Linked DNA regions of Homo sapiens. The protein of the gene in region 2 purifies or fractionates together with the protein of the main gene of each other region. This does not show direct contact. Each region holds a gene or a part of one and is shown on either strand. Other genes may lie near its edges.

The links. The genes of interacting proteins can lie anywhere in the genome.
Region 1: the proteins of STAC2 (region 2) and F11R purify together in Homo sapiens (affinity purification with mass spectrometry; one large-scale study listed by BioGRID and IntAct). This does not show direct contact.

Annotation. Positions count from the first base shown.
Region 1 is NC_000001.11:161,000,653-161,004,152, forward strand, and holds part of F11R (junctional adhesion molecule A isoform 1 precursor), read right to left. Parts: intron 702-3,500; coding exon 633-701; intron 476-632; coding exon 368-475; intron 126-367; coding exon 1-125. UniProt on the Homo sapiens protein: Seems to play a role in epithelial tight junction formation. Appears early in primordial forms of cell junctions and recruits PARD3.
Region 2 is NC_000017.11:39,212,994-39,215,945, reverse strand, and holds part of STAC2 (SH3 and cysteine-rich domain-containing protein 2), read left to right. Parts: intron 1-715; coding exon 716-828; intron 829-922; coding exon 923-995; intron 996-1,084; coding exon 1,085-1,155; intron 1,156-1,527; coding exon of another isoform or gene 1,528-1,539; exon of another isoform or gene 1,540-1,599; intron 1,600-1,615; coding exon 1,616-1,713; intron 1,714-2,372; coding exon of another isoform or gene 2,373-2,387; coding exon 2,388-2,439; intron 2,440-2,813; coding exon 2,814-2,951; intron 2,952-2,952. UniProt on the Homo sapiens protein: Plays a redundant role in promoting the expression of calcium channel CACNA1S at the cell membrane, and thereby contributes to increased channel activity. Slows down the inactivation rate of the calcium channel CACNA1C.

The DNA.
Region 1 (3,500 bases), on a different chromosome or scaffold from region 2:
GACCTCCCCATAGCTGTTGCCGCCTTCCTCAGAGACCATACAAGTGTATGTCCCAGTGTCTTCCCGTGTCACGGACTTGAAGGTGATACCAGTTGGCAAGAAGGTCACCCGGTCCTCATAGGAAGCTACCACAAGAGGAGGCAAGAGCAAGGACAGAGTGAACTGGAGAGCTAAGGGAGGCTGATGAAGGGGGCATCCAAGGTACGCAAGTGCTCTCCTCTTCCCCCAGAAAGGGGGGTAGGAAGGCCATGAGGACTTCAGCCCCAGGGTGTGCCCTGGGATAAGGGCACAAAGTCTGGATCGTAGAATCCAGGCATGATAATCCCTCCACAACCTAGGCAATCAGGAAGGAGGAGAAGCAACTCACCTGTGATCTTGTTATTATAGCAAACGAGTCTGGTGGTGTCTCCTTGGTCAAACTTCCACTCCACACGGGGAGAAGAAAAGCCCGAGTAGGCACAGGACAACTTCACAGCTGCAGACAGGGTCAAAATGAGCCGAAGGAAGAAGCAGCAGCAAATACACGAGATGGGGAACAGCCCCAAACTGCAGGCTGGGCTGGGTGCTCTCTAGATCCCCAGGCGGCCGGCAACTGCTCACCCTCACACCCTCCATGGCCCCTCCCAACTCACGATTATTCTCAGGAATTCTGACTTCAGGTTCAGAAGAGTGCACTGTAACACTGCCCAATGCCAGGGAGCCTAAGGAGAAAGAAAGAGGTGGGCCCTGTCAGGAGTGGACAGAGAAATGCCAGGAAGAAGGAGTCACAGACCCAGTGGACAGGGCTTCTCCATTCACAGACCCTAAGAGGAAGGGATTCCAGACTTATGCTCCCTCTGGCTCTCACACTTTGTCACCATGATCCTAAATGTCTTCTTTAAGTGCTTTTTGCTACAATTGCCAGCTAATACTTCTTTTATCCATGGGAATGCAGTTTCTTTTGCTTCTAATTTTTCTCTCTGTGACTCCCAATAATCTAATTAGATTTCTACTAGTCCAAGGGCAGCTTCCAGAATGACATTTCACTGTTCAGAGAAAGCTTCTCAACAAATGATTGCAGCCACTTGTCAGGACAATCCTGGAAGGAAGCCAGCAGGGCTGGAGGCAAGGGATGGAAGGGAAGGGCAGAGCCATGATGAGGATAATAATAATACTCGACATTTGTGGAGCATGTGGTGCTTTTAAAAGTGTTTTCGTGTACATTATGACACGTTGCATCATTTGATCCTGGACACAAGCATGACAGATCGGCAAGACGTATATTATTATCCCGAGTTTACATGAGGAACTGAGAGTACAAGAAGTAAATGTGCCTAAGATCACACAGCTGGGGCCAGGTGCGGTGGCTCAGGCCTGTAAACCCAGCACTTTGGGAGGCCGAGGTGGGGAGGTCATGAGGTCAGGAGTTCAAGACCAGCCTGGCCAATATGGTGAAACCCCATCTCTACTAATAATACAAAAATTAGCCAGGCATGGTGGCACACCTGTAGTCCCAGCTACTTGGGAGGCTGAGGCAGAAGAGTCGCTTGAACCCGGGAGGCGGAGATTGCAGTGAGCCGAGATCGCGCCACTGCCCTCCAGCCTGGGCGACAGAGCAAGACTCAATCTCAAAAAAAAAAAAAAAAAAAAAACACACAACTGGTTCTGAGGTGAAGTTTGCACTAGAAGTGGGTTCAGATCACCTCATTAGAATATTCTACTTGCCAAATGGAGAAAGAAAAGAAAAGATAGTGTGTGCTGGGTGGAGGGAGGGAGAAGCAACAAGGCTAATTAAATAATATGGGGGAGGTGCATCAGGGTTCATAGGAGGGACCCACAAAGGTCAAATTAAGAACCAGTGACCAGGGATTCTGGGATCACATGATGCAGCTACAAACCTGCACTTACACAATTATTCTCATCCATGTTTTCAAAGTCAAATTCATGAAATATCCTTTTATTTGTAGCTTCAAGTCAGGACCCTGTCTTAGATAAATGTTTGTAGAAGTCAAGCACATCTGTTAAATTCAAGTACATTTTTCTTTTACTTAATTATGCACATAACTGAATATGGTCTCTTGACCTCTGAGACTCCCCTTCCTCTCTGAAATATGAAATAGATGTGCTCTAAAGTCCTTTAGGTTCTTTTTTTTAAATTTTGGCATTAATGTTTAGATAATATTTGTATACCTGTATTTCAATCTGATATAATAACACTATGAATTAGTCCAGATAAGTATTCTCTCTCCCATTTTATAGATAAGAGACTAAAGATATAGGTTACTCCTATATCCTTTTTCTCTTATTATACTCTCTATTTATTTGTTTTTTTTTTTTTTGAGACGGAGTTTCACTCCTGTTGCCCAGGCTGGAGTGCAATGGCGCTATCTCAGCTCACTGCAGCCTCTGCCTCCCAGGTTCAAGTGATTCTCTTCAGCCTTCCAAACAGCTGGGATTACAGGCGCTTACCACCATGCCGGCTAATTTTTGTATTTTTTTTTTTTTTTTTGAGACAGAGTTTCGCTCTTGTTGCCCAGGCTGGAGTGCAATGGCGCAATCTCGGCTCACCGCAACCTCCACCTTCCGGGTTCAAGGGATTCTCCTGCCTCAGCCTCCCAAGTAGCTGGGATTACAGGCATGTGCCACCATGCCCGGCTAATTTTGTATTTTTAGTAGAGACAGGGTTTCTCCATGTTAATCAGGCTGGTCTCGAACTCCCGACTTCAGGTGATCCGCCCGCCTCAGCCTCCCAAAGTGCTGGGATTACAGGCGTGATTAAGCCACTGCACCTGGCCTAATTTTTGCATTTTTAGTAGAGATGGGGTTTCACCACGTTGGCCAGGCTGGTCTCAAACTCCTGACCTAAAGTGATCTGCCCGCTGCAGCCGCCCAAAGTGCTGGAATTATAGGCGTGAGCCACGGCGACCGGCCTAATTTTCTTTTTTTTCTTTTGTTTTTTTGTTGAGACAGAGTCTCACTCTGTCGCCCTGGCTAGAGTGCAGTGGTGTGATCTCGGCTCACTGCAACCTCTGCCTCCCACATTCAAGAGATTCTCCTGCCCCAGCCTCCTGAGTAGCTGGGATTACAGGCGCCCGCCACTACGCCTAGCTAGTTCTAACTAGTTTTTTGTATTATTATTATTATTTTTTTAAGATGGAGTTTTGTTCTAGTTGCCCAGACTGGAGTGCAGTGGCGCAATCTAGACTCACCACAACCTCCGCCTCCCAGGTTCAGGAGATTCTCCTGCCTCGGCCTCCCTAGTAGCTAGGATTACAGGCAGGCGCCACCATGCCCGGCTAATTTTGTATTTTTAGTAGAGATGGGGTTTCTCCATGTTGGTCAGGCTGGTCTCGAACTCCTGATCTCAGGTGATCCACCCGCCCTGGCCTCCCAAAATGCTGGGATTACAAGCGTGAGCCACCGCGCCCGGCAATTTTTTGTATTTTTAGTAGACAGGGTTTCACCATGTTGTCCAGGCTGGAATTTCTTTTTTTTAAAGAGCTGGGTTCTTGCTACATTGC
Region 2 (2,952 bases):
CCGAGGCGGGCGGATCACAGTGTCAGGAGTTTGAGACAAGCCTGACCAACATGGTGAAACCCCGTCTCTACTAAAAATACAAAAAAATTAGCTGGGTGTGGTGTCAGGCTCCTGTAATCCCAGCTGAGGCAGGAGAATTGCTTGAACCCAGGAGGCGGAGGTTGCAGTAAGCCAGGATCGTGCCATTGTACTCCAGCCTGGGCGGCAGAGCGAGACTCCGTCTCGAAAAAAAAAGAAAAAACGAGACCATGGGTACGAGGCCTTGGGGTCCATTTTAGGGTAGCCTTTTGGACTTTCTTCTAAGGGTAATTTGTGTGTTTCTACAAAAGCTTTCTGGCTGCTGTGTGGACTGGCAGGGCTAGAGTGGAAGCAGGGAGACCAGTTGAAAGGCCATGACAGTTGCCAAGAGAGTGTGGTGATGTGAATTAGACTGCTAGCAGTGGTGATGGAGACATGTGGATAGGTTGTAGGGATGCTAGGAGGGAGGACTAGGTGGCAGAGTGGCTGTGGGCAGTGAGGACAGTGAGGAGTCAAGGATGCTCCAAGTTTCTGCATGGGCACCATGGGAGGACCCAGAGCCATCTCTGGGATGAGGAAGACCTGGGAGGGACAGGTGAGGGGGCAGCTGGGAAGCTCAGCCTGGGGCATGCTGAGCCGGGACTAGAGATGCAGGGCTTTGAGGCAGAGCCAGGCCTTGAGGGTGGATAATCTGCAGGGGACAGTGGGAAGGTGGACCCTGTCTACGAGACCCTGCGCTATGGCACCTCCCTGGCACTGATGAACCGCTCCAGTTTCAGCAGCACCTCTGAGTCCCCGACAAGGAGCCTGGTATGGTGGGCAAAAAGGGGGGGTCTTTTGGGGAGGGGTGTCTGAGCATGACAGTGGGCTCGGGGGCTGAGCCCTCTCCTCTCTCTGTCCCTAGAGTGAGCGGGATGAGCTGACCGAGGATGGGGAAGGCAGCATCCGCAGCTCTGAGGAGGGGCCTGGTGACAGTGGTGAGTGGTGGTGGGCATCAAGGGCAGGAATGGGGTACAATGGAGGGTGCTCCCTGCTGCCTCTCACCCTTTCCCTCTCCTGCCCCTAGCATCTCCAGTATTCACAGCCCCAGCAGAGAGTGAAGGGCCAGGACCAGAGGAGAAGAGTCCTGGACAGCAGGTGAGCCTGTACTGGCATTGGCCCGGAAGGTCAGGGTGGGAAGCGGGTGTAATTTCTCCTTGCCATTGATTCATAGGGGGGCAAGAGCATGGTGCGTGGGGATTCACTGCTTCCTCACTTATCCTCAGGGATGGGCAATGCCAGGATGAGAGGGCATGGGAGGCAGGAGGAGTTACCCTCCCACCCCCAGCCCACTGCCCATTGCACCCATTTCTTCTCTCCCAAAGGCAGGCAGCCCCAGGGTACAGCAGGCAGAAGGGGGCTCCCCTCTCCATTCCCGTCCCAGTGCGCTTTGGGGTGGGTGAGCATAGCATGTACGAGGGTCTCACTTCTCCCTGCCGTTGACCTAGGACTCACTGTGTCCCCTCACAGCCCCCAGGGTAGCACACTCAGAGCGAGTGGAGAGTGGGGGGAGTGAGGGTGCTGCTTTCCGGTCACCGACCCAGAGATTCTCCCGCAGCTCCCCAAAGCCACCCTGCGGAAGGATGTGGGGCCCATGTACTCCTACGTTGCACTCTACAAGTTTCTGCCCCAGGAGAACAATGATCTGGCTCTGCAGTAAGTCCTCTTTGTGACCTGGCCCCGCTGGGCAGCTCTGCGCTCCCAGACCTTGAAACACAGTGTGAGGGGGGCCTTCAGGAACCTTCTTGCATGCTTGAGGCTGCTGAGCCCAGACAGGAGCTGGAACTGCCCAGGGTCTAAGAGTGACTCATGCTAATGTCGTGTCTCCCGCCCTCTGACTGGGCTGCCCAGCGAGTGCCTGCTGTACCTGTGGTCACATGGTGTCCTCTGAGGGCATCAAGAATCCTCTCCCAGCGGGGCGCGGTGGCTCACCCTTGTAATCCCAGCACTTTGGGAGGCTGAGGCTGGCAGATCACTTGAGGTCAGGAGTTCGAGACCAGCCTGGCCAACATAGTGAAACCCCATCTGTACTAAAAATACAAAAATTAGCCAGGCATGGTGGCAGGTGCCTGTAAACCCAGTTACTCGGGAGGCTGAGGCAGGAGAATGGCTTGAACCCGGAAGGTGGAGGTTGCAGTGAGCCAAGATCGTGCCTCTGCACTCCAGCCTGGGTGACAGAGTGAGAGTCTATCTTAAAAAAAAAAAAAAAAAAAAAAGAATCGTCTCTCCCAGCTGAGGACTGCAGTGTCCCCCAGGTGCCCAGGGTCTGCTAGGATGGGGAGGGGCACTACTCCCTGCTCCATATGCAACCCTAGCTCTGTCCTCCCCAGGCCTGGAGATCGGATCATGCTGGTGGATGACTCTAACGAGGACTGGTGGAAGGTGACTTGGCAGGGTGGGGAGTGGAGGGACACTGGTAGGCACCCCAGCAGCCCCCACCCCCAATGGGCACTGCCCCCACCTTCTCTCCAGGCCCCAAAGACAACCTCTCCTCCAACCACTGGTCCCAGCCAAAACTAGGACCAACCCTTGGGACATCCTCTCAGTTTTGACTCTCCTTGCCTCAGCTTTGTCCCTCTGCTCACCTTATGCTATTCCTGGCCCAGAAGCCACCTGGCTGGGGGCTGGAATCCGGAGAGCCCTAGATCTGGAGGATGATGGCATTGGTGCTGAGTGGGAACCGGGTCTGGAGAAAGCAGTGGTGGGCAGCAGGGGTGGGGTGTGGCGCGGGTGTTCATTGCCAACCTCATCCCCAGGGCAAGATCGGCGACCGGGTTGGCTTCTTCCCAGCTAATTTTGTGCAACGGGTGAGGCCAGGCGAGAATGTTTGGCGCTGCTGCCAACCCTTCTCCGGGAACAAGGAACAGGGTTACATGAGCCTCAAGGAGAACCAGG